Homo sapiens: one gene and its partners. The protein of the gene in region 4 purifies or fractionates together with the protein of the main gene of each other region. This does not show direct contact. Each region holds a gene or a part of one and is shown on either strand. Other genes may lie near its edges.

Region 1 (6,064 bases), on a different chromosome or scaffold from region 4:
AAGGACCTCCCCAGTTCTCAGGCTAGTCCTTGGGCACAGGGCCTGCTTCCCAGCCTGCTGTGCAGAGCAGCCAGGGCTCTGGGACTCCTGAGGGTGAAGGTGAGGAGGCAGGGGATGCCCAGGACCTCCCTCCTCCAGGAGAGCCCTGTGCACCACAGGAGGCAGGGCGGGTGGTGGGAGGGAAGGGCGGGCAGCTCAGAGGTCCGCCAGCAAAGGGGCTCAAACCTGACCCCCAATGTGTGGGAGAGACAAGACCCAGAAGGGCCCTCGGGGAGCTTGAGAGGCTGCAGGGAGCAGGTTCTGTCCAGATGAGGAACCTGCCTGGCACAGCTGGGCCACTCTCCTCCCAGGTGGCCTCCTAGGCCCATGGGTCCAAATCTCAGGTCCACAGCGCCTCCCGAAAGGCAGAGTCCAGTGGCAAATGCAAGGGCCCCAAGTGAGCCTGGGGCAGACTGGACGACACACGCCACCCAAAGCATCGCAAGCTCTCCCTGCGGCTTGGGCCAGAGGGGCAATGCCTCAGGTGCCCCCCAAGGCTTGCCAGATTAGAAAAACCACCAAGAAAAGGCAAGGTCCGTGGGCAGGAAGGGCCTGGCTGCGCGTGGGAGGGAGAGGAATCTGGGCTCTCTGGCACCCAAAAGCGACCCCAGCCACTGGTGCCAAGTCTCACCCTACGCTTGGGCTACGTGGGGAGCGGCTTCTGCAGAAGGCACGTGGTTTGAAAAAGCAGTCACCTTCCGCCAGAAATGTAGTCCCAGGGTCTAATTCTGTGTGATGCTGGTGGGAAGGAGGCTACTGAAAAGAACTGAAGGGTTGGAGACAGCCGGAGACCCCAGTGTCTGAGGACTGAGGGTGAGGCTGCGGGTGAGGATGAGGGTGAGGGTGCGGGTGTGGGTGGGTCCTCACCCGCACCCTCATCCTCACCCGCACCCTCACCCTCACCGTAGCCTGAAGGGCCAGCAGGGGCCAGAGAAGGCAGCAGGGTCCCCAGGACCAGGTTGTTCTTTGTAGTCCCAGTCTGCTTCCTCTGCAGAGGCCCACAGGAGGACACGCCCAGAGTCTGTTGTCCCAGCAGCAGGGCCAGTTTCCTCCTCACACCCCTGGCAGGGCCAAGGCTCAGAGTCACCCAGAACCTGTTAACCTAGCATGTGAGTTACTGGCACCTCCCTCCCTGTTCAAGGGGTGCAATCCCCACGTGCCCATTCCAACAAGTGGGCAAGACCCAGATCCTGCCTGAAGTCAGCTGACACTCAGCAAGCTCACTGGGGGGCCAGACAGTGGTCCATGTCCCAGAACGAAGGCAACAGCAAGGTCTGAGGACTGTCCCATGTCCTTGTCCAAAAGCCAACAGTGTGCACCTTGCCACTTGCAAATGAGGCAGTCATGTGGCTCGTGAGGGAACGTTTTGTGGCCTCTGTCCACAGCCCGCTTGAGGAAGCAGGAGGGCTGGCCTGGCGTGGCTCTCTCCCAGAGCTCCAAGGGCCCTGCTCCCTCCTGCCCCCAGCACCAGGCTGCACGTTGGCTTTTCTGTGGCTCATCTCTGACCACCTACAACCATCTGCTGGGGAGAGCACCAGGACCCAACACGTTCCAGTGGACGAGTCCAGGAAGCCAGGAATGTATATTGGCTCAGCAGTACCCACCCCAGAAATGGATTAACACTCATGGAGACATCCGGATCGAAGACCTTGTAGGCACAATACTAAGCTCGATGAGTTAACTTTTCATTCTACAATGGGCTGAGAAAAATTTTGCCATTTGGAAGTCAGACCGACCTGGAGCCAAAACTGCAATGGGGCTTGGTCAAGCCAAGGGGCCCATCAGAGCCCCGAGGAGAGCCGGCCTCTCTGGGCTTAGTCTAGCAAGGAGAGCATGTCCATCCACCTGGCCACCCTTCACCTGGCCCAGCCTGCCCTGCCTGCCACGTGCCCAGCCAGCTCTCCACCATGGGAGGGACTTGCCCAGCACCTGCTTTAGGGGCCACACCCAGTGAGCTACAGATTAGGTCACGGCCACTCGGGAGGGAAGCTCCCTCATGAAGAATTTTCCAGGCACCACCTGCTGACCTTGCCCAGCAGGAAGGCAGGACACAGCCTGCTGAGGGCGGTCAGGGCAGCCTGGCTGTGGTCAGCGTCCAGGTCTCACCGAGTGGCCGGCCTCTGCCCTGGCTCCCTCCAGCAGCACAGAGGGAAGTCGGGCTGTGTGGTCTCGGCCCGAGCAACATCCTACTGGTGTCCTGCGATCACTGACAACCCAGAACAGACACTCTGGCCCAGTAACCGCAGGCCCAGCTCTTGGGACGCTGTTCTGGGTCTCCGGCCTGACCCTGCAGTCGCCTTTTGCCTCTTTAAGAACAGAGTCGTAAAACAGGAGCCCAAGCCTGGATCAGACAAACCTGGAGTCAGACCTCTTCAGCACTTACAAGCTGTGTGGCCTAGAGTCAATCACTTAACCTCTTGGTGCCTCAGTTTACTCATCTATAAAGTGGGAGTGATAATGGCCACCTCGTGGGGTTGCTAGGGACTGAATGAGACGATGCTCAAAGCAGGGGTACCATGCCCGGCACATTCCAGCACTCAACACCTAACCCCTGCTGTCACTGTCCTTGTCATTATTACCAGATTCACAAGCGGAGCCGGCTAAGGCCAAGGAGCTGTCCTCTGAGATCCATTTGCTCCCGCTGCTGGGAATGAAAACGTCGCTGACACCGGGCTCTGCAGAGCCAGTTTCTGATTAGATGGAGGTAACCCAAGTTCCAAAAACCACAGCTGAGGAGCAGCAGCTGACAAGCTGGTTGCATGGATGTGGAAAACTACCGCGTTCCAGCCGCCTCCAGACAGAAACAGGACGCATAGCCAGGTCCCACGGCAGCTCCAAAGAGGGCCTTGCACGCCAAGCGGGGCACCCCCCAGCCTGAGGGTTCACCAACCACGCGGACCACGCGGAAACCTAGCTGGGCTTCTCTCTCCCCTCGGGGCGCCAGTGCGGGAGGCGGTTTCTCCCTTGGAAGTGGAAGTCAGATCTGCTTCCAGGTTCCCGGTCTAGGGCCGGTCTAGGGCAGCTAAGCCTGCCTGCTCCTTCCTTTCCATCCTCCCTGGTCAGGGGAGCCCAACAGCAACGCGAGGGCACCCGACCCTCTGCCTGCACCTGGAGGGCGCCCGGGTCCCCCCAAGCCACGGCCAGGACGTCGCGTGGTGGGGCAGGGAAAGGGGCGCCGCCGCTGCTGGAAACTAGCCCTGTGCGCTCCGCCCGCGCTCCCCTCCCGGAGATGTCTCGAGCGCCTCTGGCGCGAACAAAGCCCGGCCGCCCCCGAGAAACTTCCGTGCATGAAGGTTTCCTCCTTGACTCGGCAGCAGCGGCCGCCGCAGGTGGGTGACTCCGCAACTCTGGAGCTCCGCGGAGGCGCGTTCGTCCCCAGCTGGATCTGTGGGGCCTGCGCCTGCGCGCGCTCCGGGCCACCTGCCCAGGTCACCTGCCCCGGCCACTCCGACAGTCCCTGCCAGGGCCGCAGCCCCTGCTCACCCGCTTCCCCCCGGCACCCGCTGCAGCGTGGGGCCCCTTCGCCTCGGTCCTCCTGCGGGCGACTCGGGAGCTCCTACCTGCGCAGCCGGCGGCGGGAAGCGGCGAATTTGGCCTCCGATTCCGCTCGGTCCTGCCCTCCCCCGCGGAGAGGCTCGGGGCGCTCGGCCGGTGCCCAGGCCTCCCGCCCCCGCGCGCATCCCCCCGGCGCTCCAGCCCCTGCCCACGATGGCGGCACCTGCCGCGCTCCTACGCCAGCAGGTCGGGCCCTGTGCACCCGCGCCAGCTCCCCGCTCCCCGCGCACTCACCGTCCCCGTCTCGAGGGCCCGGCCGCCGCGCCGCGCAGCGCTCCACGCTCTGGCCTCCCCGGCAGCCACGCGCCGCTTCATTCATCCGCTGGGGCCGCCCCCGCCGCAGAGGGAGGGGCGGGGTTTCCTGCGCGGGGCCCGCCTCACCCCCCACGGCCAATGGCAGCGGCGACCGCCCCCTCCTCCCCCCCAGGGCACAGAGGCGGGAACGCGCGGCGGGGGACCAGGGCGTCTCTCTCCGGAGCGCTGCCGCCTCCTGGACTCCCCGCTCCAGCTCCAAGGACCGGCATCGCTGCCGCAGCCGGGAGGCCGAGAACGCGCGGTGGCGACGCCGCCCCAGGCCACGCGGCGAGGCGGTTCCGAACGGACTCGGGATTCGCTCCTGGGCGCTGTGGGGCCGAGTGGAGCCAAGCGGCCGTTTTTCAGCTCCGCCCTTCCGAAAGGCTGCCGCAGGGTCGGGGCCACGTGGGGCCCGCGGCAGAGGGGCTGGGGGAACGCCACGGGCGGCCCTGGTGAAGGTGCCCGCCGGTCTCGGCCTGACCCCCAGGCCCTGTTCTGGCACGCGCCCCACCTGCGCGCACAGTGAGACCGGCGCCCTAGCCTGGGAATCCGGGGAATCTCCAGCCCGTTGCCTTTTCCATAACCCCGTCTTCTTTTTCACACTAGCTCTGAGGGTGGAAGGCAGGGAGGTGCCAGCCACGTTCCCTTCCACAGAGGGAACTCCCTGTTGGAATTCCTACCCCGGCTTCCTGCCGTCTGTCCTGGAACACATTGCTCCAGGCCTCCGAGCCTCAGTTTCCTCGTTTGCAAAATGGGGGCGATAACAGAGCGTCCTCAAAGGGGATAAGACGGAAGAAGTTGGCTCATATCAGGGCTCATAATTGTTGCCAAGTATTAACAGGTAACCACAATCACACTCCACAAAGCTTCCCTTTTAGTGTCAGTGAAATTAATTTAAAAGAAGTTTCCGAAAGTCAAGTGTGTGTGTGTGAATCCTGAGATAAGTCAGGTAAGGGGGGAAATGACCACCTCACGGCCCCAGGCTGGTGAGGAAGTCCTAGCCACGGAGGCGGTGCTGCAGGACCTGGCCTGGTGGCATAGCGTGGCGGGCGGGTTCACCGTGGAGAGACGAAGGAGGTGCTGCGGCTTGTGAGAAAAGGCCCACAACCCCATGCAGTTATTTATGAAATGGTTTTCCTTCCTCCAGGGCTTGGGGCTCCTGCCCACTCGTATCAGGTCCCGGGACCCCCCCGGTGGTGTCCTCAGGGCTCCCGCCGTCCCAGGCCGCCCTCCACTTCTGGAAGCAGACACGAGGCCACGAGACCCACTGCTTTTGGGTATCTGCTTTCATTCCTGACACTGCCCTTTAAGAGAAAAAAGTACCCACATTGTTCCCAGATGGAGAGGGTCCCTCCCAGAGGGTGAGGCACTGCCACAGGGGCTCACGGCCCTGCCAGGAGTGGAAGGTGCACACCCAGAAGTATTTCTCCTGTGAAGGAAGGGGGCTGAGCTTCGCTGCAGACCTGGCCTCAGGTGTGGATGAGCTTCGCTGCAGACCTGGCCTCAGGTGCGGAGTCTGCGGGAGCAGCATTTCCAGGCAGACCTGACAGAAGGTGCCTTTGAGAGGTGGTGAGCTCCGTGTTACAGGAGGCTTGTGAGCACAGGTAGCCCATCTTCTGGTGATGATGCTGGAGAAGCAATTCAAATGTCAGAAGCAGGACTGGACTCTGTTTCCAAAACTCACGTCTGGATTCTACCCCCTGAAAACATTATTTACACAATGTTTTTCCTTTAAACAATTCACACATTTGATTAAAAGGGTAAGTTTATTTTTTAAAAAGTCAGTGTCAATTACCACAAAGAGGTCACCATAAAAATAGATAAAAAGAAACAAAATGGCATTAAATTCTAGCCAAATATTGCTGCCTGTGGAGGGCTCCCGGCCTGAGACCCGCCTCAGACCCCACCAGGCATTCTTTGGGATTCCTGCATAGGCACCATTGGAAAGGTAAATCCAGAGCAAACATTTCAGGTACATTCGTGCAAAATGCAGGCCCTCAGTCCTGTCCTCAAAGGCAAATGCTGGTGCCCAGGCTCCTCAAGAGGCCCCTAGGAGCACCAGGAGGCCTTGACCCAGGTGAAGGGTCCTGCCGCAGGCCATCAAGGGGGTCTGCAGGTCTGGCCCAACTCCAGGCCCTGCGTGGTGGGGTCCATCTGCACCAGCTTTCGGGAGCCG
Region 2 (5,567 bases), on a different chromosome or scaffold from region 4:
TTTGGTCATCGTAAAGTCCTCTGGAGATCAATTTTGAAAAAGAATGGCCAGTTATCCAAAGGAGAAATTACATTAACAAGAGGGGCCTGAAAAACCAGAAGCGTACCTGTTCTCAGCTTCTTTTTCAGAGAGGCTTTAGACATAGTTAAAGCAGCCAAAATGACTCCATAACTAAAACCAAAAATTCCAAGATTCTGTAGACTCATGGGAAAAAAAATCACCTAGTCCTACCTACTTTAGAAATGGCCAAAACAAGTGCTAGGGTAAGACTTCATAGGAAGATAAAGGAAATTAAACCTGTTTGTCACCACTCACTTGGAAATACACTGTCCAGTAAGGTATCAAAGCCAAGAAAACAGGGACAATCTTGACCAGAGCTTTCACATCTTCCACTTTCTCTTCTGTAAATGGCCCACCATGAGACATCTTACATGAATCAAACAGACTTTGTTTAGAAGATTGCTGAAAGACTCCAATGCCTTCACTTTGGGAAATAAAATGAAGGAATTAGTTTTCTTCCCCTCCCAGCAATCAATTATTTGGTCACAAATTAAGTTTGGAGGTAAGAAACCAGCTCACTGTATTGAATCTGCTTCAACTCATTCCATCACTTACTAATTGTACACACCCAACACAGCTACCTAAATTATTTCTAAATGTCACAGAATGTACTGAAACAGCTGACAAAGGGACTTTCTAGTCAAAGTGAAACTGGGCTACTGTAATTTTGGCGTGGCTGGAAGATCTGTGATGACAGTGTGAACCACGGCTGAGCTGAGAGCCCCAGCGCAGCTGCCAGCTCGGCAATCTCCGTGTGGGGAGAGTCTGCAGCTCTACGTGACACTGGGAGGGACACTAGCTATGCCACTGGATAGCATATGAAAAAATGCACTGGATTGTGTGAATTTTTAATCAGCTAATTTATCAAACATCAAGACCTGACAGCCAATACCCATGCTGTTAATAAAACCCTGCTGGTTTAAACTGAGTCACTGGCAGGACTGAGGCAGGCTTCTATTCTCGGAGGAAAGCTGTCAGCTCTTGGATTAAGGAAGAGCTGTTGGGGGAGGGCGGTGCTGGTGGTGATGAGAGGAGGATGTCCCTGGCTCTGTCCCCTGACAGTAGGAAACAGGGAGTGCCCAGTGCACCGCGTCCCATGTGCTCCCTCATTAACCATGTGGTGTTAAAACTCTTCAGGGCCCTATTGCACAGAGGAAGATGCCGGGGCACAGAGAGTGTGAAGGGTGCCTGAGGTATGGCCAGGACTTGGACCCAGGCAGTCTTGGCTTTACAGCCTGAGGCCCTGACCCCTGCAGGACACCACTGTCCCTCCACTCCCTGCCACTGCCCTCACATCTGCCGGTCACAGCAGGAACATGGACCTGGCATCCCCAGCTCTTGTACTAACGAGTTTCACTTCCTTGCTCTGGGCCTGCTTCATTATTTAGAAAATGAACAGGCCCCACTAGACAGCTCCGCACTCTCTCCCAGCTCCAAAACACTCTAATGGGGAACGGGCTCCAAGGATCTCAGGGGTAAAATGGGAAAACAAAGTGCACACTATTCTCTAAAGCCAGAAGTACCAGGAGAGAGTTAATTCCCAATAAGATTGTGTTTAACTGTGGGAAGCCAACAGAAATGGCACCTGTCAGCCTTCTAGTTTATTAACTCATGTCCCATTTTACTATGGTGCCAGTATTTTAAATTCTTTATCTTATAAAGTCAACATTTTAAGTCTGGACATTCAGAGTGGGGAAAAATAGAAGCGCTGAAAACTATAACTGAATATTTTAGCCAAATTTTGGACAAGAAAACTAAGTTCGATTCAACAAATACTGATCGAGTACCTGCTGTAGGCCCTGCATTGCTCTACCTGGGGGCTAAAGGGGAGGGCTCCTGTCCTTACGGACTTAGTCTAGTGGGGGAAAATAATCAAAAACAAAAACACCCAAAAGTGAAAATAAATTCCAAAGACATTATAAATACTTTCACTCGAAAACATTAACTTCTTCAAGTACTACTTTTTTTCAAAAAGGAAATTAAAGTCCTTTTGTACCTAATGCAGATACTATCAGTGGTTTACCACATCATATTAAATACCTTTCACTAAAAACATTTAAATAACAAATAAACCCATTTTCACACAAAGAATCATTCACACAGGTTACTGGTTATATTACTTTCGCTTTATGTAATTAAAATATTTAAAAGCTGTGAAATCAACATGCATCTGAAGCTTTACTGGGTTACACATATTGTTAGGTGCACTATTTTGCAACATACAAGGGTCCAACACGAAGCCACGGTCACAAGTGACACCCGAACACCCACAAGAGCCCTCTGCTCCTCCCACACAAGTTGACGAGCTCCAGTTTCAGGACGCCTGTGCCTGAGTCTCTGTGAAGGCCGCATGTAGGTGTGTGTATTCTCCAGGAAAAGAGTCCACTGGTTCTCACGGATTCCCAAAGAAGTATGTATCTCAAAAAGCTGTAGAACCATTTCTACTCTGGTCTGATGAGTTGAACAAATACGCCTTCATTTCTCATTTAATATCAAGCACTATATTATCTTCAAAACACAGATCAACCTGGATTGAAACTGAGATTGGGCCAGATGAAATTAAGTGTCACAACTGTAAAAATGTTGGGTATGTCATGCTTCCTCAGGCTTTGGAGGCCCAACTTTTTTTTTTTATTTTATTTTTTCGTTTTTGAGACGGAGTCTCGCTACCTTCCAGGCTGGAGTGCAGTGGTGTGATCGCGGCTCACTGCAAGCTCCGCCTCCCGGGTTCACGCCATTCTCCTGCCTCAGCCCCCCATGTAACTGGCACTACAGGCACCCGCCACCACGCCCGGCTAATTTTTTGTATTTTTAGTAGACGGGGTTTCACGTATTCGCCAGGATGGTCTCGATCTCCTGACCTCGTGATCCGCCCGCCTCGGCCTCCCAAAGTGCTGGGATTACGGGCTTGAGCCACCACGCCCAGCCTGGAGGCCCACCTTTTTTAAGGCACCCTCGTCACAGTGGTCACCACTGACAGGGCCCTTATCATGTACCTGGCATCCTGCTGAGGGCCTTGCACACATCACTGTGCTCAGGCCCCACCGTGAGCCCATGAGATGAATCCATCTCCGCTGTAAAAAAAGGAAAGCTGGGCTTCGCAAGATCAGTAACCTGCCCAAGGTTACAGAGCCAGTTCATACAAACAGCAGAATCTGAGAATTCCTCAGACCATCAACTTTTCTGCAAGCTAGCCCCTGCTTTTTTTTCCCTTATTTTTGCCCAAGAAGACTTTCAAAGACTATCCTAAGAGGAAATCGGCTTCCTAAGTAAAAGTAACTCCAAACCCTCTCCACACTGCCATTTGTGCTTTAAAACCCAAATATGTCCACAGAACAATGCTGTTCTCTTGCAGAAATGTCTATGGGCTACCACCCACACGGATACTAAAACTTTAAGGGTTGTTCCTGAAAAAGACCTCTAGGATCCGAAACACTGCTTTTGTCTGATCAAATAAGGCCCTGGCAAAAGACTAGTGTCAGCTAAGATGGGGCTATATTTTTTTTTTTTTTTTTTGAGACAGGGTCTCACTTTGTCACCCAGGCTACAGTGTAGTGGTGCAACCATGGCTCACTGAAGCCTTGACCTGACCTCCTGGGCTGAAGTGATCCTCCCACCTCAGCCTCCTGTACTTTAATTACTAAAAATTCTTTAGTGCGGTCCCACCATTTGCAGTTTTGAATTATGTGTCTGAATGCCACAATGACCCACTGGCATTTCCAATAGGTCATGTAGACTGGTGAGATCTGCCAGAACTCCACACAGGGACAGCCGGAGAAATCAGAGATGTTCAGGAGCAAAGTAGGCGCACAGGGCTATTTTGGTGAAGTTTCAATCTACCACGTGGAAGGAATATTAGACACATTCGCTACGGCTCCAAGAGCATGAGTAAGACAAACACAGACAGGCCGCAGGCAGGCAGATGTGTGAGTGGGCCCGCAGAAGAATGTCCAGCAACCAGTGCCATGCCACAATGGGGTGCACGGCTCAGAGACACAGGACGCTCTGATGGCTGAGTGATCAGCCTCCCACCCAGCAGCCTCCAGGCATTTCTACGTTGATCAAAACATTCCATGAGGGGACTGACTACAAAAGGTCCCAGAGACTTCTCTGGAAGGATGGAAATAATCTATGCCTTGACTGCACTGGTGGTTACACAACCTGAGTAAGTTTGTCATAATTCACAAAACTGTACAGATATAAGGGGTAAATTTTACTATCTGTAAATTATTCCTCAATAAAGAGTAACACAAACACTTCTGAGCTCTCTTCTTGGGCTTAAGTTCTGGACTTTATTAACTGGCATCCAACATCACCAAACATGAGTCATAGTTGGCCAGTGACTTGGAGGGGTTCTGAGGACACAGGCCTTTCTGTTTTAACACCTCAGTTCATGGGACTTTGGTGCTAACACTGGGTAAGTCCCATGAGATCATCTGGTTACCCTCAGTGCATCTCGCCATTCTGCTACTGCACCTTCCTGTCAAGAGTTACAGACCTGACCGCCGTATGATGGACCTGACCGCCGTATGATGGACCTGACCGCCGTATGATGGACCTGACCGCTGTATGATGGACCTGACCGCCGTATGATGGACCTGACCGCTGTATGATGGAGCCCATGCTGACCTTTAGGTAAGAGGCAGTGGCTTACTTTTTAAAGAGCAGAGACAGGTACTGACAGCATAAGCAACTGCTTAGTTTTTCATTCAAATGTATTTCAAAGCTTTTTAAAATAAAAAGAAACATGTATAAAGCATGTCTTCTGTCTCCTCGATGTCCTCCACAAATTTCTACCTTTATAATCTGGCACCAAAGGAGCTTCCGTCTACACTAGCAGTGAGAGAAAGTGCAACGTGGGGTTAAAGCATGAGCTCTGGAATCAGGCCACTGGCCTGTCTTTAAGATGGGATAATAAGACCGCACCCGCCTCCTTGGGGAAATGCAGTGTTAAAGGAGAGAAGACATGTAAACCACTCAGCCCAGGCCCAGCACACAATAAGCACACAACAAACCGAAGCTAGGATGTTAATAAAGAGATCGATAAAGTCCTTTCAAACAGCCCAAGATGAGAACTAAGTGCTTACCCATTACTCTGGCGCTCTCCACTTCGCTTCTGGGAACAGCAGGAATACGTCAGTATCTTGAACATGTCGGTGAAGGCACTGCCATCAGGAGGCTTGGTGATGAAAACGCTCTGGCCACAGAGGAAGACCACAAAAGCAAGGCCGACGCAGACAGTGGGGATCGCATAACCAGTGACAAAGCTGACGTTCTGCTGAATATAGGCAATGCCACCTAACGACAGGATCGCTCCCAGGTTAATGCTCCAATAAAACCAATTAAAAAATCTCCTAGTGGCTTCCGGACCTCGATCTTTAACCTAAAATAACAGGGAGGAAAGACACTTGAAAATATATGACAGTCTTCAAGGATGAAAACCATATACGGTCAAGTGGTTAAAATTACCGTTGTCATCACAACCTTTAAGAAGCGCAACACAATCA
Region 3 (5,567 bases), on a different chromosome or scaffold from region 4:
TTTAATATTTATCTAACCTGAATAACCCAACCGATAATCATTTAGAAAAACAAATCACTGTCCTAAATTACAACTTCATATTTTATAACTAAGATAACAGATTAACATACTTGATGGAAAGCATGGATCATCAGGGTAAGTTTCTCTATCATATAAGAATGGATGATAACGGATAATCCCTTCCACTACACCATCTCCTTCAACATGAGCTTTGAATTCAAAACTATCAGCTGCTGTGTTTACATACAACGTCTGCATGTCGTCTTGTATTTCCCTTAGGTTGACAATCTTAGGTACCTTCCCTTTTTCAAACATAGAAATCTAAAATAAAAAGGAAACAAAAATAATTAAATTCTATGGTAACTTTACTTTTGTTCTCAGCTATGATTCAACAACAGAATAAGTAAAAATTATGTTTATTTGTACAAGTAACAATCTGGCTTAATGAAATACATATATTTACATATGAGTTAAACAGCTTTAAGTAGCATCTCAATAAGGAACATACTACTAAAAAATATAAAGTAAGCAAAGAAACAGCAAATCAGAGCTGAAGGACAGAAAAGTCATGAGTACATTTAATTCGAGGTTTCTTGCTAGAGGTAGGAAGTGGGACAACATCGTATGTGAAATTCTAACGTGTGGGTTAGAGGATTGAGAATCCAATACTCAAATGCTCTGTGCTGCTAAACCTTGTCACCACGATATAACTTCTACAAACAAAAGGAAAGCTACATTATCTCCCTTTTCCTCCATGCTTCAAGAGATGATTGATGTTCAGTAACAATGCATAGCTCCACAGAAGAGAGACAAAAAAAGATAAACCAAGCCTACAGTAAATAAAGGTTTGAGAAAAATACATCTAGGAATAATCTCTTTAGTTGGATATCAAACAATGAAAGTAGTTTGGTAAAAAACAAGGAGAGAGAAGTTGTCTAATTATCAAGTGTTTTTTATTATCCTGAGTCATTTGGAACTGGAACAAATATCTCATAATTTTTATTATTTTAAGATGGATTTTTCTCTTACTTCAATATCAATATTGTTGAAAGGTTCAACTTCTTTTGATGTTCGTATTTCATTTCCTTTTGGGCCATGAATATAGTAGTGATAAATATGCCTAAAATAGAGAAGAATAATTTTATACTTTTAATTCACATAAAATTATAGTTAATGTAATCTTCTATCAAAATATTTTAACACTATTTACTAGGTATCAAGCACTTTATTAAGCATTTTAAAATACATATTCCATTTAATGGTAAAAACAATTGAGATGCAGGTATTACTGCATCTCATTTTACAGATATAGAACCTGGGGTGCAAGAAGTGTATGTAAGTTATCTGACATCACAGAATAGAGTTAGGGAGCCGTGGGCTTCAACCCAGACCTTTCCAACTTCAAAGACCACATACACCACTTCCAAGAGGAATAATTCATCAAATAAATATAAACTAGACAGCAAGAGTCTATAATTCTACTTACCAGGTACGTTCCAGAAAGGACTCAATTATCGGTGGTAAACTGGATTAGGTATCTAATCTCAATAAGAGAATACCATTCCAGAACAGCAGTCCCCAACCTTTTTGGCACCAAAACCAGTTTCATGGAAGACAATTTTTCCAGAGATGGGAGTTGAAGGGGGGTGATTTGGGATGAAAATGTTCCACCTCAGATCGACAAGCACTAGAGTCTCATAAGGAGCACGCAATATCTCACATGCACAGTTCACATTAGGGTTCGTGCTCCTATGAGAAATCTAGTGCTGCCAGTGATCTGACAGGAGGCGGAGCCAGGTGGTAATGCTCACTCGGGCCCACCACTCACTGTGGGGCCGGGTTCCTAAAAGGCCACAGATGGGTACCAGTTCACGACCGGGGCGTTGGGGACCCCTGTTCTAGAACATTCATCTCTCCTCTCCTATAGCACTGAGACAATCTTACCCTAAGATTCCAAAAACAAAACTAGTAAGTTTGACACCATCTCACTGAAAACCAACATTTTGGAAATAACACCTCTTTATTTTTTCAGAAAAGGTTAAAAAAGATTATATTTTGGTAACATTGTTCAGGATTATAAAATACCACGTCTTTATTCGTGAAATAGAAATTTGCAATATTTCTTCATAATCCTTCATTAGAGCAAGAGTATATTTAAATTATGTGTTAATGTACACTGAGTTCCTTCAATAAACTATAAAATAGCTAATAAAATATGTACTTGAAGAAAACTGCAAAGTCCTACTTAAATACCTTGGGTAACAGGGATAATAAACAACTTCAACAAGAAAAAAGGTATTCCTAAAACCAAATTTATTTTCCCATAAAAAAATTTTAAAATTCTCTTAGCGTATAATTACGTATAAAATTGAGACTCTCAAGAACAATAGCCTTTTGGGTAAATGTAAAAAGATACATTTTTAAAATATGAATTTTGAGCAGATGTACCCATTTTGCAAGTCTCAGTAATTCATACTAATGCAAATTAGGGAAACAATACAGTAAATCGTATGTATCACATAGCTATAAAAAAAAAATTTTAGGCCGGGCGCGATGGCTCACGCCTGTAATCCCAGTACTTTGGGAGGCTGAGGTGGGTGGATCACCTGAGGTCAGGAGTTCAAGACCAGCCTGGCCAACACGGCAAAAACCTGTCTCTACTAAAAATACAAAAATTAGTTGAGTGTGGTGGCACGCGCCTGTAATCCCAGCTACTCGGGAGGCTGAGGCAGGAGAATCACTTGAACCCAGGAGGTGGTGGTTGCAGTGAGCCAAGAGTGCGCCATTGCACTCCAGCCTGGGCAACAAGAGTGAAACTCCGTCTCAAAAAAAAAAAAAAAAATTTTTTTTTAGAGCCATTAAATAACTATTCCTCTGATTTGGTCTAATGGAATATAGAGTCCCTACAAGTGTTACTGGAATAAAAACACAATGATTATTTTCAGTACTAATGTCATATAGGCACATATGTACGTATATTTTTTATTTTAATAGGCTTGATGCATTCATTCACTTGATAAACATTTGAGCATCTACCATGTAGCAAGTATTCTTCTAGAAGACATTGGAGATACAGCAGTGAATTTAACAACAAAAATAAATATATATGGTATGGAAGATTACGACAGGTCCTATGGAAAAGAAGCACAAAACGGGGTCATGGAAGTGATATAGTGCTCAATCTGACAAACTGTGAAGTTCTTTTTTAATTTTATAATATTGTCAAAATCCTGTGCCTCAAATAATGCTCAGTACACTAGAGGTGATCTATAAATATTTACAGAATAAATGAATAGAGAGCTGTTTTAACACCAATATCAGAGTACTGGATAATACTAAAGGGAAGAAAATGAGACAGGAGCAAAACGGATACCAAAGAGGCTTCAATATATCTGTAATGTTTTCTGCCTTAAAAAAGTTAAGTAGCAACATTTCCTAAGCCAAATATAATTACTTACGCTAACTGTCGTGTCCAAAGGTGGAAATAATTTTTCAAGTACTGTATGTGTTCTGGTTGTACCCCTGTGATAACCACAGCAGTAAAGCTATCTTTTTCCTTCTCCTCTATGATAAGATGATGTAGAAATCTTTCATCATCATTTGTAATGTGAACAGAATCAGAGGGCTACAAGAGTGAACAGAAATACAACAGATTAAATCATCTAAATTATAATTATACAAATAGCTATTGCATCAAATTTTAATGTGATTTACTTGGAGTTTCACAAATAGGTTTCAGAAAAGCTTTGGAGGAAACTGGCCCAATACAACAAACTGGCTGAGTATGTGACAACACTGTGAAGACAAGGGAACTTTCACACAGACTGCTAAACTAGCATGCATAAAGAGCACCCTATCTTATAATGCTAAACCGATTTTAGAATCATAAACGAAAAGGTAAAGACAAATACTGAGTTTTAAAATGCCTTAAAAAATTGAGGACACTTACCCCTAGGGTAGAATGAACGCTTGCTTGGGAGACCTACCACTTAACTTGGTCAGGACCAATGCCCAGCCCTCCATGTTCAAGAAAACTACAGGGCAGGCTGGACCCAGCTAGCTAAGCCCAAACACATAGTGCTTAAAAGTAAAATCATCCTGGACACCAACCCACTTTCAGAGAATATCTAAAACTTATGGAAGGGAGTTAGTAGGGGAATTTGAGGATAAAATTACAAACTTCTCCATCTGTAGTATGAATCTATGTTTTAAAAAATTGCAGGCCGGGCGTGGTAGCTCACTCCCGTAATCCCAGCACTTTGGGAGGTTGAGGCGGGCAGATCACCTGAGGTCAGGAGTTTAAGATCAGCCTGGCCAACAAGCCGAAACCCCATCTCTACTTAAAATACAAAAGTAGCCAGGCGTGGTGGTACACGCCTATAAACCCAGCTACTAGGGAGGCTGAGGCAGGAGAATCGCTTGAGCCCGGGAGGCTGAGGTTGCAGTGAGCCAAGATCGCGCCACTGCACTCCAGCCTGGGCAACAAGCATGTCTCAAAAAACAAACAAACAAACAAACAAACAAACAAAAAACATGGTATGCACGCATGCGCGTTTGTGTGTGTATTCATATACAGTCATATGTCACATAACATTTTTGTCAACAATTGACTGCAGTGGTCCCATAAGATGATACAGTATTGTAAAATTAGTGTACCTTTTCTATGTTTAGCTACACAAATATTTACCATTCTGTTACAACTGCCTGGGGTAACAAGCTGTACAAATTTGTAGACTAGGAGCAGTACCCTATACCATATAGCCTAGGTGTGTAGCAGGCTATGCCATCTAAGTTTGTATAAGTACACTCTATGATGTTCACATAGCAACAAAATAACCTAATGACACATTTCTCAGAATGCATCCCTGTCCTTAAGTGATAGGAGACTATATCTACTGTGTATGTTGCTATATACATTATAAAACTGTGGAAATAAAAACAGACTAAACTATTCTATCTAGGAAATCAAGTTGATTTTTAAAAATAAGTATGTATGATTACTTGCTTAATTAAAAAGTGTTACAGCTCTTTCAGAATTTGTCTATCAAATTCTAAAATTTCTGATTTAAAAAACAATAAATCCTTAAGACCATACCCCTTCAAAACCATTATAATGCATCTCTATACACTAATTGCTAATATCACAGCTACAATATATACAAGTAACATTTCATATACTTTGAGTCAGGAGATTAGTCTGAATTTACTAACGATGCAAATTCATTATCCAAATATTTATCAAGCATCTTCTGTAAGTCCTATGCCTCAACTTGGGCCTGAGAAAGATAGGTTCAAGATAAATAAGACAGTGCCTTTGTGCTCTACAAATTCCATCTGGTAGGAGATGAAAAAACAAATGATTACAAAACAATATGCTATTATGTATGAAGATATGAACCAAGAGCTACAGAGGTAAAACGAGGGTGACAGTCACCCAGCAGATGACTGAATAATAACATTCCAGACAAATGAGAACATGAATTCAAGAGCATAAAGGAAACAAGGTAGTTTTAGGACATACGATAAACATGATAAAAGATGAAGCGGGATGGCTGAATTAGAGCAGT
Region 4 (5,567 bases):
GGATCTTCAGCCATTCGGTTGGCCTGGGCACGGATCAGTTCCATTGGAGAGGGCTTCTGGGCTCCTCGGTAGGCCTGGGTGGCAAAACTTCCAGAATCATACTTCTGAAGGGATCTCAGTCCAAAGAGGCCCCACTTATCTGACAAGTTTCTGTCCTTATCCCCACTTCCAGAGTCCATGGTGCTAGGATTTGGGCCAGGTAAGGCTGTGGAAGAACCAGAAGTGAACCAGCCCCTGGGTCTCTGCTTAGGTGAAAAGTGAGAAGTGGTGCTTGGGGTGGACAGGGCTGATGCAGGTGGCCTCTCTTCTTTTGTTATCTCTCCACTCTGCAGCTTTAGTTTGTGGAGTGCTTCTGCTACTCTAAGGTACTTGGTCTTCTGAGTGGTGACACCCTTGTGGGTGTGTAGCCAGGATCTCTCAGCCCTGCCTGTTGCCCAAAATGCTGAAAGCTTTCCTGGGTCTGTTTTGTGATCACATAATTCATGACGACATGGGTAGCTTTAGCCTTCACCACTGGGAGCTTGTCCACACTGTCAATGGCCGATGACAGGGACTGGCAGGGGAGGGTAGACTGGCCTCTCCTTCCTCCACCTTGGTGAGGTGCTGATACTTGTGCTCTGAAATCACTGGCTTCCAAGGGATGCTGCCCATGTCTGATGGAGGAGGAGTCATGGGTGCAGGGTCCTTGAGGGTATCATCATAGCTGAGTGCCCGGCGGTATATCCTGAAGGGCAGGGACATCTTGCCTAGAGGCCCACTAGCCTCAAGAGCAGGCACTTCTGGTTGTCTTGAAGCCATTGAAAGGCTGAGATCCAGGTGTTTTTTCTATATAGAATCCCTGCCACCACGGTGAAATGATGTGACGACTAAGCTGACAGATGGATGTTAATGAGGAACATGGTCCAGCTGCTGCAAATTAGCAAAACTTCCCAGGAAGAGTCCATCCAGAGGTTCTGCTATCCTGCTGCCGCGGGACTGCCTGTGGCCGGGAGTCCGGCACTAAAAAGATTCCAAGGGCCTACATCCCCAAGAGGCTGTGGCGCATCTGGACCCAAGCCATGGTGAGAGTGGCAGTGACTTCAAAGGTCTCCAGGACTCACTAGGCAACACTACCCGACGTTTACAGATTTTAAATGCATCTCAATCCCACAGGAAATTTTTTTAAAACGTTAACATATTTTCATACATGTATTAAAGGGGACTTTAAAATGAGATTGCATAAATGAAAATATGTAAATACTATATGCTTCATAGAGAAATCAAATGGGAAGTAAGAAGAACTAGATATGCATTATATGCATTAATATTTTTGTGAAAATAAAGCTTGATCTAAAACCTGTATCTTTGTCATATTTTCTGCCACCACATCAACCACTGGGGGGCAGCATCAAACATTATTTTATAACTTCTCTCCTTGGTCTTCTAATAGGGGAAGCTTTAATGCCAGGCCATGTAACTTATAATCTAGTTAATACAAACACTAATAAAGGATGGAACAGGATTAGAACCCAATATTGTTTGATTCCACAATCCATGTTTGTTTTCACAGCATCTAACTGTTTCTCTATCCTTCTATTTCTCCCAGGATGTAGGAACATGCTGTCTTTTAAGATTTCTATTACCCTGAATAGCCTACAATCTCTCTGATATGACAGTAAATGTGTTTCTCCAAAACCAAGCTACAGGTAGGACTAATTTAGTTTTGCAAAGACAGATAAAAACAATAAGCACTTACTTAATTACTTCGGAATTCATCCTTAAGAATCTTTAGTTTTAAGGCATAAAATGAAACAAATAGTATAGCTTCTGCTGAATTTTTCTTAAAGGCACAGACTGAGAGGGAACTGCCAATATCAACTTCTAGAACCCCGTTCACTGACCTTTCAATAATTCCTTAGCAGAGGGAGAAGGCATATGTCCACTACTAGAAGGAATTGGCAGCCTGGAAGTTGGTCCACTGGGGAGTATATATCAATAAATGAGATGGGAGCAGCAGAGGGAGATCCCAGCACTCCATCCCAGACCAGGAAAGGCAGACAAGGAAGAGCCACTCAGAACTCTGGTTCAGCTTGGTCCTGAGAAACCTAGTGCAGGGCTTGGCCTTATGGGAAGACATATGATCGGGGAGCTTTAGTCCCTGTAAGTTGACTCACTCCACTAGACATAAATGGCCAACTCTGCTAAACATATCTACCCTGAGTACCTTCCTATGGAAGAACTTCATGCTAAGCAGTCAAGCCTTTCCAAGGGGCTTAGTGGCTAACAGGGTCCCAAGTGTCACTACTACAGTTGTTAGCTTGTCACACTTCCATTGATTCAGTTAGTAAGGAGACAATGAGCATCAATGGATTCAGGAAGTTTATTACTTGCACAGATGCCAAAGGCAAGATCAACACAGGAAGACACTGAGCCTTGAAGAGCAAGATGACTGACAGTATGGGCAATGGGTTGCCCTGCTGGGGAGGAGCAACCCTTAAACCACGGCCAAGAAATTGTACAGACTTACACAAAAGACTGTAGCTGAACCTTAAGTGGGAGCAAGGTGGGGAGAAAGGAGGGAAGTCTTACACTCAACGGAAACCAAACGGGAGATAGATAAGAGAAGGTCAGTCTCCCACAAGACAGGGATAAGAAACTGCCTCACAGTGGCTCCTCAATAGGCTTTTCTTCCTGCTGTAGGGGGTATCTCTGGGTGTTTGAATAGGAGTGACGATGGCGCTCCCTGAGGTGCGTGATTAGTTCTATGGGTAAGACAGCAAGGCCAAACTGGCTAGAATCCTTCCAGAATTTTCTGCAACTACCGGGAAGTATTCTCTCTCATTTCCTGAGATAAAAAGTTTTATTTTTTGTTCTAGAATTTTTTATTGTGGTAGAATATATCTAACATAAAATTTATGATTTTAGCCATTTTTAAGTGTATGATTCAGTGGCATTAATCACATTCACAGTGTCGTGCAATGAACACCACTATCTGTTTCAAAAACTTTTTCATAACCCCAAACAGAAATCTAAGCATTAAGCAATAACTCCCCACTCTGCCCTCCCCATAGCCCCTGGTAACATTAGTACCTTTTCTGTCTCTATGACTTTGCTTATTCTAAATAGTTCATGTAAGTAGAATCACACAACATTTGTCCTCTTGTGTCTGGCTTATTTAACTGAGCATAATGCTTTCAAAGTTCATCCATGTTGTAGTAAGTATCAGAACTTCATTCCCTTTCATGCCTGAGTGATATTCCACTGTGTGTATACACAGCATATTTTGTATATCCATTTGTCCATCGATGGACACTTGGTTTGAGACAGGGAGTTTTAAAGAAAATGTAAGCTTATAGCTCCTGGGGTCATCTTTCACACTTGGGCAAAAGACAGCTCTAGAATGAAACCACAACACAGAGGGAAGTGGAGCTGGCCGCCGAGGGGGAGGATGATCACTGTTGAAGACCTTAATCCAGTTATGCCTAAAACCAGCCCTAACTCTGACCTTTTCAGTTGCAGAGGTAGAATATTCCCTTTTTTTTCTTAAGGTAATTTAAGTTGGGCTTCTCTTCCCACAAACAAGAATCCTAATAAATCAACAACTTATCAAAGAATAGTTATGTTTTAGAAAAGCAAACTAAAAGGGAATTCATTTTATGCCTCCTAAGTGCACAGTGAAATATTTAAAACTTTCTTACTGCTAAATCCTTGTCATTATTTTAAATGTAAACTGTTCTTGTCCTAAGTAGAGAGAATCTTTTACATAAATGCTGTTGCTGTTACTGCCACTCTCTCACCTACCAAAAAAATTTAGTGACCTACAGCATCTTTTCTTCTCAAAGTGTGCACGTAATTGATTCTAGGAAAGATCAACCAGAGGCTGTCCACAGCATAATTCCTGACTTTATTTCCAAACTACTGTTGCTGTTGGACCTCTGTTTAATTTACATCTTTTTTAATACTTCCTTATTTTAAAAAGACTATTCTTCATCAATAGCTTTTATCATTTCTGTTGACTTTTTAAGCCCCACAATACTGTTGATTTTACACCAATCTTACCATATGTAAATTTCCCCAAGAACTCTAAAATTTCTGAAATATCATAGAAAAAAATTATATAACACATGTAACTGATGTTTTCTAGTCACTGATTGAATAATAAAATGGGACCGAAGAAGTTCCAGGTTAAGCTCTCTGTTCTGAATTGGCCCTCAAAATTAAGATCTTTTCACTAAATGAAGTTCAACAACCTCCTTTAATTCATTTCACAATGTATCAGCTCTCAATCTCTAAAAACACACCCTAACATTTCATGTTGTGTACAGTGAGTGCTTTCTTTCTCTCCCTCCTTTCCTTCCAGTTAAATCCTTTCATTTTTCATATAAAGTCATGCAAAATTCTAATTCTTAAAAAGAGAGACAGGAGCTGTTATAATGAAGCTTGGAGCTTCGCCTACTACCATTCTGTTACCCGCCCACATCCGCTGTGGCCCTGGGCAAAATAGACTGAAAAACCTTTGTGGTGAGGTGTGCTAATTTATAACTAAAGTTCTATTCTCCAGGCAAGAGAATAATTCTTCTTATATTTCTTTGTATGTCTTATATTCCAATCTTTTCACCATTTTTGAATCCTTTCCAAATTCATCTTGAAAGACTCTAAAAACGTTAAGGGCTTTAGTAAAGACGCAATAGGCTGCAGAAAACGGAAGAATTGCCTCTGAGCTCCTTGTTGGACTCCAGTTAATATAATCTACTTTTGCATTTTCTAAGCATTCTGACTGCCATTGCTATTTTTTAAATATATAATAGCTATATTGAGCTGGTACATGGGGTAGGCACTATACTTTTTTAAAAAGTGTTTACATCTATTATTTCTTTTAATCTTCATATCAGCCTGAGTCCTGGAGCTGTCAGCATTTACACTACATCAATGATTTTAAATCTTGGCTGCAAATTATAACTTTTCTAACTTGGGGAACTCCTGGTGCTGTCAGCATTTACACTACATCAGTGGCTTTCAACTTTGGCTGCAAATTATAACTTTTCTAACTTTGGGAACTTTTGAAAACTCCATACCAATTATAATCAGACCAATTAAATCAGAATCTCCAGGGGTAGGAACCAGGCATCTGTGTTTTAAAAAACTCCCAGATGATTTACTACATGTTGCCAAGATTGAGCATTACCACTCTAAGAGGAATTCTCATATCAGCTGCTGAGAAAATTAATTTTCTGTGTTTTCTTACCCTAATACTCTTCAAAGATAGTAAAAGTGCATGAATGTGTACTTCCCCCAACGATGCTGCCATTACTTAGAATATATTTCAAACTCCTTTTTTTTGGAATTGCTTTTAGTCAATTTGCCAGCCACTGCTAGAAAATTCTTTTCACTGCCCACGGCAGGATTTGGGGGAGTGCTGCAGAGCTGTGTGTGCACCTGAGGAGACCATCCTCCCTCTGGCTGTGCCGGAATCCACAGCAGGATGAAAGTGGATACAGAACCCAGCAGGATCCTAGCAAGGCCACTACTCCAGGCACACCCCAAACACTCCCCATTTCATCTTCTTAATGCTTAGAGTCATAAAGCAG
Region 5 (6,108 bases), on a different chromosome or scaffold from region 4:
TGCTTAATGCCAGATGACTATCATCTTGAATAGTTTTTTTAAACTTGTTCAAGGACTTTCTCAGCTCTGCTCTCATTGTATCTTCACAACTCTGAGGTACGCAGCACTGATACTATTATTAGCATTGGACAGATGAGAAAATGAGGCATAAAAATGTGAAATGAGTTGCTCAAGGGTACCCAGCTAGTTATTGCCAAAGACACATTGTAACCTCACTTGAAACAGAGTTACTTACTAATAGTAGAGGAATTCAGTGATTGGGAAGGTAACATGGTTAGGGGAACTCCTCTGTTATTAGTAAGGTTATCACTAGAAAACAAATATGTGATCAATTTTCAGAAATAAGTACAACAATATTTTTAAATTTAAAATCTTATTTTAAATCTAGGGTCAGTGTCTTTTTTTAGGTTATTGAAGTTAATCTTTTAATTTTACTTAAAATTTTTTTATTTCAATAGATTTTGGGGTATCAGTGATTTTTGGTGGTTATATAAATGAATTGAAAGTGATGAAATCTGAGACTTTAGTGCACTTGTCATCTGAGTAGTACACATTGTACCCAATCTGTAGCTTTTTATCTGGCATCCTCCCTTCCAACCTCTGGCTTCTGAGTCTCCACAGTCCATTATATTACTCTGTGTGCCTTTGCATACAAGATGTCTTTTTCGAAGTCTGTCACACATTCTTCAAAGTACTTCTGTGCACATACTTCTCCTACCTCCTCACCACCTTTCATAGATGTATATTCTCCCAGAGACTAAAAAGATCCAGGTAGTTTCCATCAAGATATATTTTCAGAAAAGTATTTTTAAAAGATTACATAGTCACAGAATTTCAGAGGTAAAGGGAACTTTACTGATCAACTTTCTCTCCCTCCTCTGGTAGATATGTTTAATTCAATACATATGGAATGCTAACACTATACCAAATACTTCACATTCATTATCTTCATTAAATCTTTACCATCACTCAGTAAAGTGGGTACCACCAACACTACCACCAGCATCATCATTCCCATTTAGCAAAAGAAAAAACTGAGGCTTAGAGATGCCAAACACCTTGCCCAAGATTCCTGGGTGAGTAAGCTGAGGCCTGATATTTATATTTGACTCAGAGCCTAAGCCCCTATTCACCACCTTCCATCACCTGGAGTAACAACAGTCCAAAATGTGAAGGATAAACAAATACTTATGAAAATGCCAGTGAGGTGATCAGTGAACACTTCTCCCAAGAGGTGGAAAAGTGGCATCAGGGATAGGCCATCACAAGTACACAGGATTTCAGTAGGCATTCTGGACTGGAATCCAATCCACACAGATATTGAAGCAGAAAAGTGATAGGGAGGGAATAGGGTGAACTGTGAGAAAGAAAATATCAAGAGAAAAAATTGGAAAGAGATGAGAAGGCAGATTGTGAAGGGTCCTAAGTGTATGGCTAAGGAATTTAGACTGTATTTGTGTGCAATGGAAACCCTCAGAGGTTTTTAAAAGCAAGGTCCTTTAACAAAATGTGAACTGAATTTTAGAAATATAAACCTCATGAAAGAATGGAGATTTAATTAGGGGAGCATAACTTGATATGGAGGAGAGACCAACAGGAAAGCTGTTCCACCTCAGTAACTGGCTGTTTCACTCTTAACCATATGTTGTGCTTGCATTTTTCTCCACCGCCCACTCCCACTGCCCCTAGGTTGTTCAAGGCACCTCTATATCTGTTTCATATGTCTCCAAGTCTAGGTAAGGTGACAGGGACCTGAACTTGGGCAGTGGAAATGGAGACAAGAGGACAAGTGTGAGGGGTATTTTCAAGGGCCTGGTCACTGCTCAAAGTGGGAAGGGCAGTACGAGAAGGAGAAGCAGAGAAGAAAAAGACTCTCATTTTCAAACTTAGGAGAAGGGGAACAGATGAGATATAGAACGGAAGGGATGGCCAATAATATCACAAAGAGATGAACAAGATGGCCTGATCAAGGTCTCAAGGTCTCGATCCAACAAGTATTTATTAAGCAGGTACTATGTGCTGGACATTAGAGGAACAATGAGTAAAATCGGTTTTTGTCCACAAGCATCACCCAGAGTAAAGAAAAGAGTAGCAATAGTCAGATATCAGAAACATGGTGCTCCTTTCATTAAATGGCCTTAATTCATGAAGCATCATAAAAAATATACATAAACAACATACATATAGGTTTAAAGCTCCAAAACACCTTTAAAATCTATTCATCTATCTGTTCAATTATATTACAGTCAAAGAAGAGTGCAATAAGTACTTGCTGTTCCTTCTTCCTGTTCCTTCCGCTGGCCTTCTTCCCTCAATTATGGAAATAGCTGATCCCTTTTCATCATTCGGGTCTGAGGACAAATGTTATACCCTCACACCGCCCCTCCCGGTGAGTCACTCTATTTCAAGCATCCTCCCCCATCACATGATCCTGTTTTATTTCTTCATTGCACTAAGAATACCTGAAATGTATATGCCTACATTTATATAGTCTATTTCCCCCTGAGAACGGAAGCTTCATAGAAGGTGAAACAAATCTTGTTAGTTGCTGCCAGTCGCACAGTAAGCCCTCTGTAGAAAATGTTTATTGGCCACATTTTTTTAAAAAGCGAATAAACCTCAAGATTAAGACCTCAAACCAAACTATTCCAGTTTCCAATTGCTTACAGCGACATACTGAGAAATCGAGTGACTCTCAAGAGAAAGGCCATTTTGAGGCTGGGGTCGAACCAAAATCCAGGGGGTCCACACCAGGTCAGTACCCCGGAATTGGCTGTTTTGCAAGATTTCGGGAGTACCAAATTGGCATGAGACATTTGACAACGAGGCCAGCCATGCACCGAGCTCAGGTTTTATTTCCGTTGTCCTTCTGACGTCAGAAAAAGCACGAGTTGCTGCACAGTTTCTTTTATCAAGGTGACAAATTACACCCTCGCTGGGCCCTGCATTCTGCAAACCATAAATTTATTTTCCTCCTCCCCCTTATATTGAAAAATGTAAAAACCCACTGCAGAGAGGTCAAAACCCCTTCCAAACGCAAATAAATACCGTTTTCTAGCAGAGGCGTCTTTTTTCACTTTTGCTACACACATCACCGCGGATTCGTCCGAGAAAGTACGTGATCCTGGCGGCAGTTAGGTTTCTAACAGAGAACGAGGGTTTGTACAAACCCCGGGTCCGCGCCGCAGAGCAAGACAAAGGACTCTGAATTGTAGCACCACCTTCCCCAGCCCAAGGCAGCCTGTGAAAGGCACTGGGAGCGGCGTGACGCGGGTACCGCGAAATTCCTTTTGCTGCCATATGCACTTGTGCCTTCTCTAACTACAGTTCAGCACAAACCTCAGGCGGGCGATTTGGCAGGCAAACGGTGCCCAGGCAGCCGGGTAACCTACTGGGTCCCAGTGGGTGCTGGGGAGCCCCATGCGCCAGGAGGTGGATAATTTAGGGGGCAAGGGGCTCGCACAAGGGCGAAGATGCGCTCTCCTCCCGGCACCGACCCACGCGTTTAAAGGCCTCTGCGGCAACGTTTAGGGACGCGAACTAGGTGCCGGGGGTTGGGGAGGAGGTGGGACTGGAAGCGAGAGCAGTCTGCGCCCAAGACCGCGCAAGAGGTGGCCTTTTGTTCGCTGGCTCCAGCACATCCCGGCTCTCGAAAAAACACTACCTCTGTCCCCTGCCACCCTCTGCATTTTAGAAAATCCTCTTCAGGGCAGGAAAGGACAGTGAGTCACTGCAAGCATCCTTTAGTAATTTCTCCCCGCGCCCTCCTACTTCCCCGCGTTACAGAGGGGCAGAGCACCAGGAAGGACGGCAAACATGCCCCGGTTTAGTGGTGGTCCGCGGCCGCTACCCAGCCGGCCGCACGCAGCACCCCCCGGACATCACACGATCTCCTCTGGGCCTTGCGGACACAGGAAATTTTCACCAAAGGCCGGGGATTCAAACACTCCCAGAACACGGTCGCGCCCTCGGGTCAGCTGCGCTCTCCCTCCAGACGTGCGTGGTTCCTGGCTCTCGTAAAAATGGAACCAGATCTGGTACCACACTCTGCCACAGCCACAGGAAAACACACCAAAGTCACAGGAAAACAAACCAAAAAGTAAGCCACAGCCCACGCAAAGGTGAACTCGGGGGCCCTGGCGCTTCCTCCCGCTGCCGCGTGCGTTCGGGAAGCACAGGAGACCTGGACTTTTCCTCTCCTAAAAGCAACATCCGAAAGCATCGGGCACAGCCGAGCTCTCTCTGCTTTCACGCCCGCAGAGATGATTTCTACGTTACCTCCTCCTCCGACATCTAAATCTCCCCTTGCCGCTCGCCCAGCCCTCCCCGGGAACGGATAATCACCTTACCTCCGGAAATAAAGGGAAAGGTGGCAAAAGGCGATGTGGAGGTGTCCGCCCTTCCGGGGTTTTTACCCTCGGCAGTTTGATGTCCTTTGTGTCAAGGTCTGGCTGCGGAGGCCGGGAAAATGTGGCCCCCGTCAGTAAGGGTTGGGCAGGGAGCTTGGCGTGGCCTGGCGGATTTCGGAGGAAGGTGAAGGGCGGAGGCTCCTGGCGACCTTCTGGCGGAGTGGCGTGGCCGCCCCAGTCCGCGCTCGCCTGGCTCTCCTCCTTTCCGGGCCGATTGCATCAGAATCTCCCCTCACCACCAACCCCCACTCACACTCTGCTCGCCGGCCTCGCACTTACATCGACATGCACCGGCGCTGAGGGTCACGAATCGGAGTCATTCTCCTACTGGGGGACGCGTGGCCCTTCCGCAACCATGGCTTGTGATGGTTTAACGCGGACAGGCCATTCCTCCCCGTCCCGCGCGCGGTCTCCTCCCCTCCTGTGCGCCCGCTCTTTAACCAAAGCTGCGTGTCAGTGAGCCGTGCCGGTCACATGGTGTCACTGCTGGCGGCCGCACCTTGCTGCCTCCCTCTTGCAGCTCTCTGACGATGCAGCGACCGCGGCTGGCGGAGATTGAGCAACGGGGAAAGGGTGAGGGAGGGGTTGCGGGGCGCGCGTGTGCCCGGCGCACTGAAGCTGGCACCGGGAGCAGAGGCTGCGCGCCGCCCTGGCACCTGCCCCTCTCCCTCCCGGGGCCCGGCGGCGTGTTCGGAACCCAGCTGCGGCTGCAGCTGGAGAATGAGAGCCCTTAGGGATGGGGGTGGGGCGGCTAAAGGGGCACCGGCGGAGGACAGGAGGGCTGTGCGTTCCGCTGGGGCCTGCATTTTGGGTACGCCAGAGCCCCGCCGGGGCCGAAGGAGCGAGGGAGTTGCATTGTGGGAAGGGCGCAGCATGAGGATGGCCGCGGGAGTGGCAGGTCCGAGCGCAGCCCGGAGAGCCGCGGGCAGCGCCTGGGACTACGGGCAGCGTTGGAGCGGAGGGCTGGCCCTGGGCACAGCCTGCAGATGGCCCGGGTTGGCGGGAAGGGGACCGAAGTGGCAGGGGCGGCGGGGAGCTCGGGCACCTTTAAAAACCCTTTGTCCCTAACCTGAAGCGGGAGGCACCTCCCCTCTTCCGGATCCAGCACCCGCAGACCTGGTCAGCCCTTCCTGAGATCTGCCCTGTGGAGCTCTGCTTTGGGGACTGGGTGTGAGGTGAACCAGAAGGATTTGCTGAGCACCGAGAAAGCACCGGCCTAGGCGCAAAGAGCCGGGGGCCAGCTCTTGGAGGGCCTGGAGACCCCACGTGGTCCCGACCGAAGGACCTGGTGCGTCCAGGTTAACGGAGCTGGGGCGCTCCAAGTCCGGGGGACGAGGGAGCGGCATGGAGGGGAGCAGGGGCAACTGGGCCTGGTTCCCTTTTTTCCCGCTTACTCTTTGTTTCAGACACAGCCCCCTTTCACTGGCTGGGCACTTGCTTGCAGAGGAGTTGTGTCTTAAAATGGCGACAGGAAATCCCACCTGCGCCTCAGCCAATTAGACTGTCATAGCGCGAATTTGCAGGGTGGAAACGCGAGCTTTTTATTGATAGGGAAGGTTCAGTCTCCTGTTCATGGTTCATCAAAACAGGAAAGGGAAGGTGAATCATAATTCAAAAATTAACTACCTGGAGCGTTTCAAGTAGACAGTAGTCATTGTATTTGGGTGAATTTTGCTTTTTCATCACCACTGGAAAAGCA

What was found.
Region 1: the proteins of QRFPR (region 4) and SLCO4A1 fractionate together in Homo sapiens (co-fractionation; one large-scale study listed by BioGRID). This does not show direct contact.
Region 2: the proteins of QRFPR (region 4) and SLC15A4 fractionate together in Homo sapiens (co-fractionation; one large-scale study listed by BioGRID). This does not show direct contact.
Region 3: the proteins of QRFPR (region 4) and SMCHD1 fractionate together in Homo sapiens (co-fractionation; one large-scale study listed by BioGRID). This does not show direct contact.
Region 5: the proteins of QRFPR (region 4) and SLC38A1 fractionate together in Homo sapiens (co-fractionation; one large-scale study listed by BioGRID). This does not show direct contact.

What each region holds. Positions count from the first base shown.
Region 1 is NC_000020.11:62,640,318-62,646,381, reverse strand, and holds the start of SLCO4A1 (solute carrier organic anion transporter family member 4A1), read right to left. Parts: upstream 3,880-6,064; 5' UTR 3,829-3,879; intron 1-3,828. UniProt on the Homo sapiens protein: Organic anion antiporter with apparent broad substrate specificity.
Region 2 is NC_000012.12:128,809,628-128,815,194, forward strand, and holds part of SLC15A4 (solute carrier family 15 member 4), read right to left. Parts: intron 5,444-5,567; coding exon 5,148-5,443; intron 485-5,147; coding exon 316-484; intron 1-315. UniProt on the Homo sapiens protein: Proton-coupled amino-acid transporter that mediates the transmembrane transport of L-histidine and some di- and tripeptides from inside the lysosome to the cytosol, and plays a key role in innate immune response.
Region 3 is NC_000018.10:2,692,585-2,698,151, reverse strand, and holds part of SMCHD1 (structural maintenance of chromosomes flexible hinge domain-containing protein 1), read right to left. Parts: intron 3,626-5,567; coding exon 3,459-3,625; intron 1,121-3,458; coding exon 1,030-1,120; intron 322-1,029; coding exon 111-321; intron 1-110. UniProt on the Homo sapiens protein: Non-canonical member of the structural maintenance of chromosomes (SMC) protein family that plays a key role in epigenetic silencing by regulating chromatin architecture.
Region 4 is NC_000004.12:121,369,548-121,375,114, forward strand, and holds part of QRFPR (pyroglutamylated RF-amide peptide receptor), read right to left. Parts: intron 1-5,567. UniProt on the Homo sapiens protein: Receptor for the orexigenic neuropeptide QRFP. The activity of this receptor is mediated by G proteins that modulate adenylate cyclase activity and intracellular calcium levels.
Region 5 is NC_000012.12:46,264,177-46,270,284, forward strand, and holds the start of SLC38A1 (sodium-coupled neutral amino acid symporter 1), read right to left. Parts: upstream 4,868-6,108; 5' UTR 4,350-4,867; exon of another isoform or gene 4,279-4,349; intron 3,812-4,278; exon of another isoform or gene 3,049-3,811; intron 2,341-3,048; exon of another isoform or gene 2,270-2,340; intron 1-2,269. UniProt on the Homo sapiens protein: Symporter that cotransports short-chain neutral amino acids and sodium ions from the extraccellular to the intracellular side of the cell membrane. The transport is elctrogenic, pH dependent and driven by the Na(+) electrochemical gradient.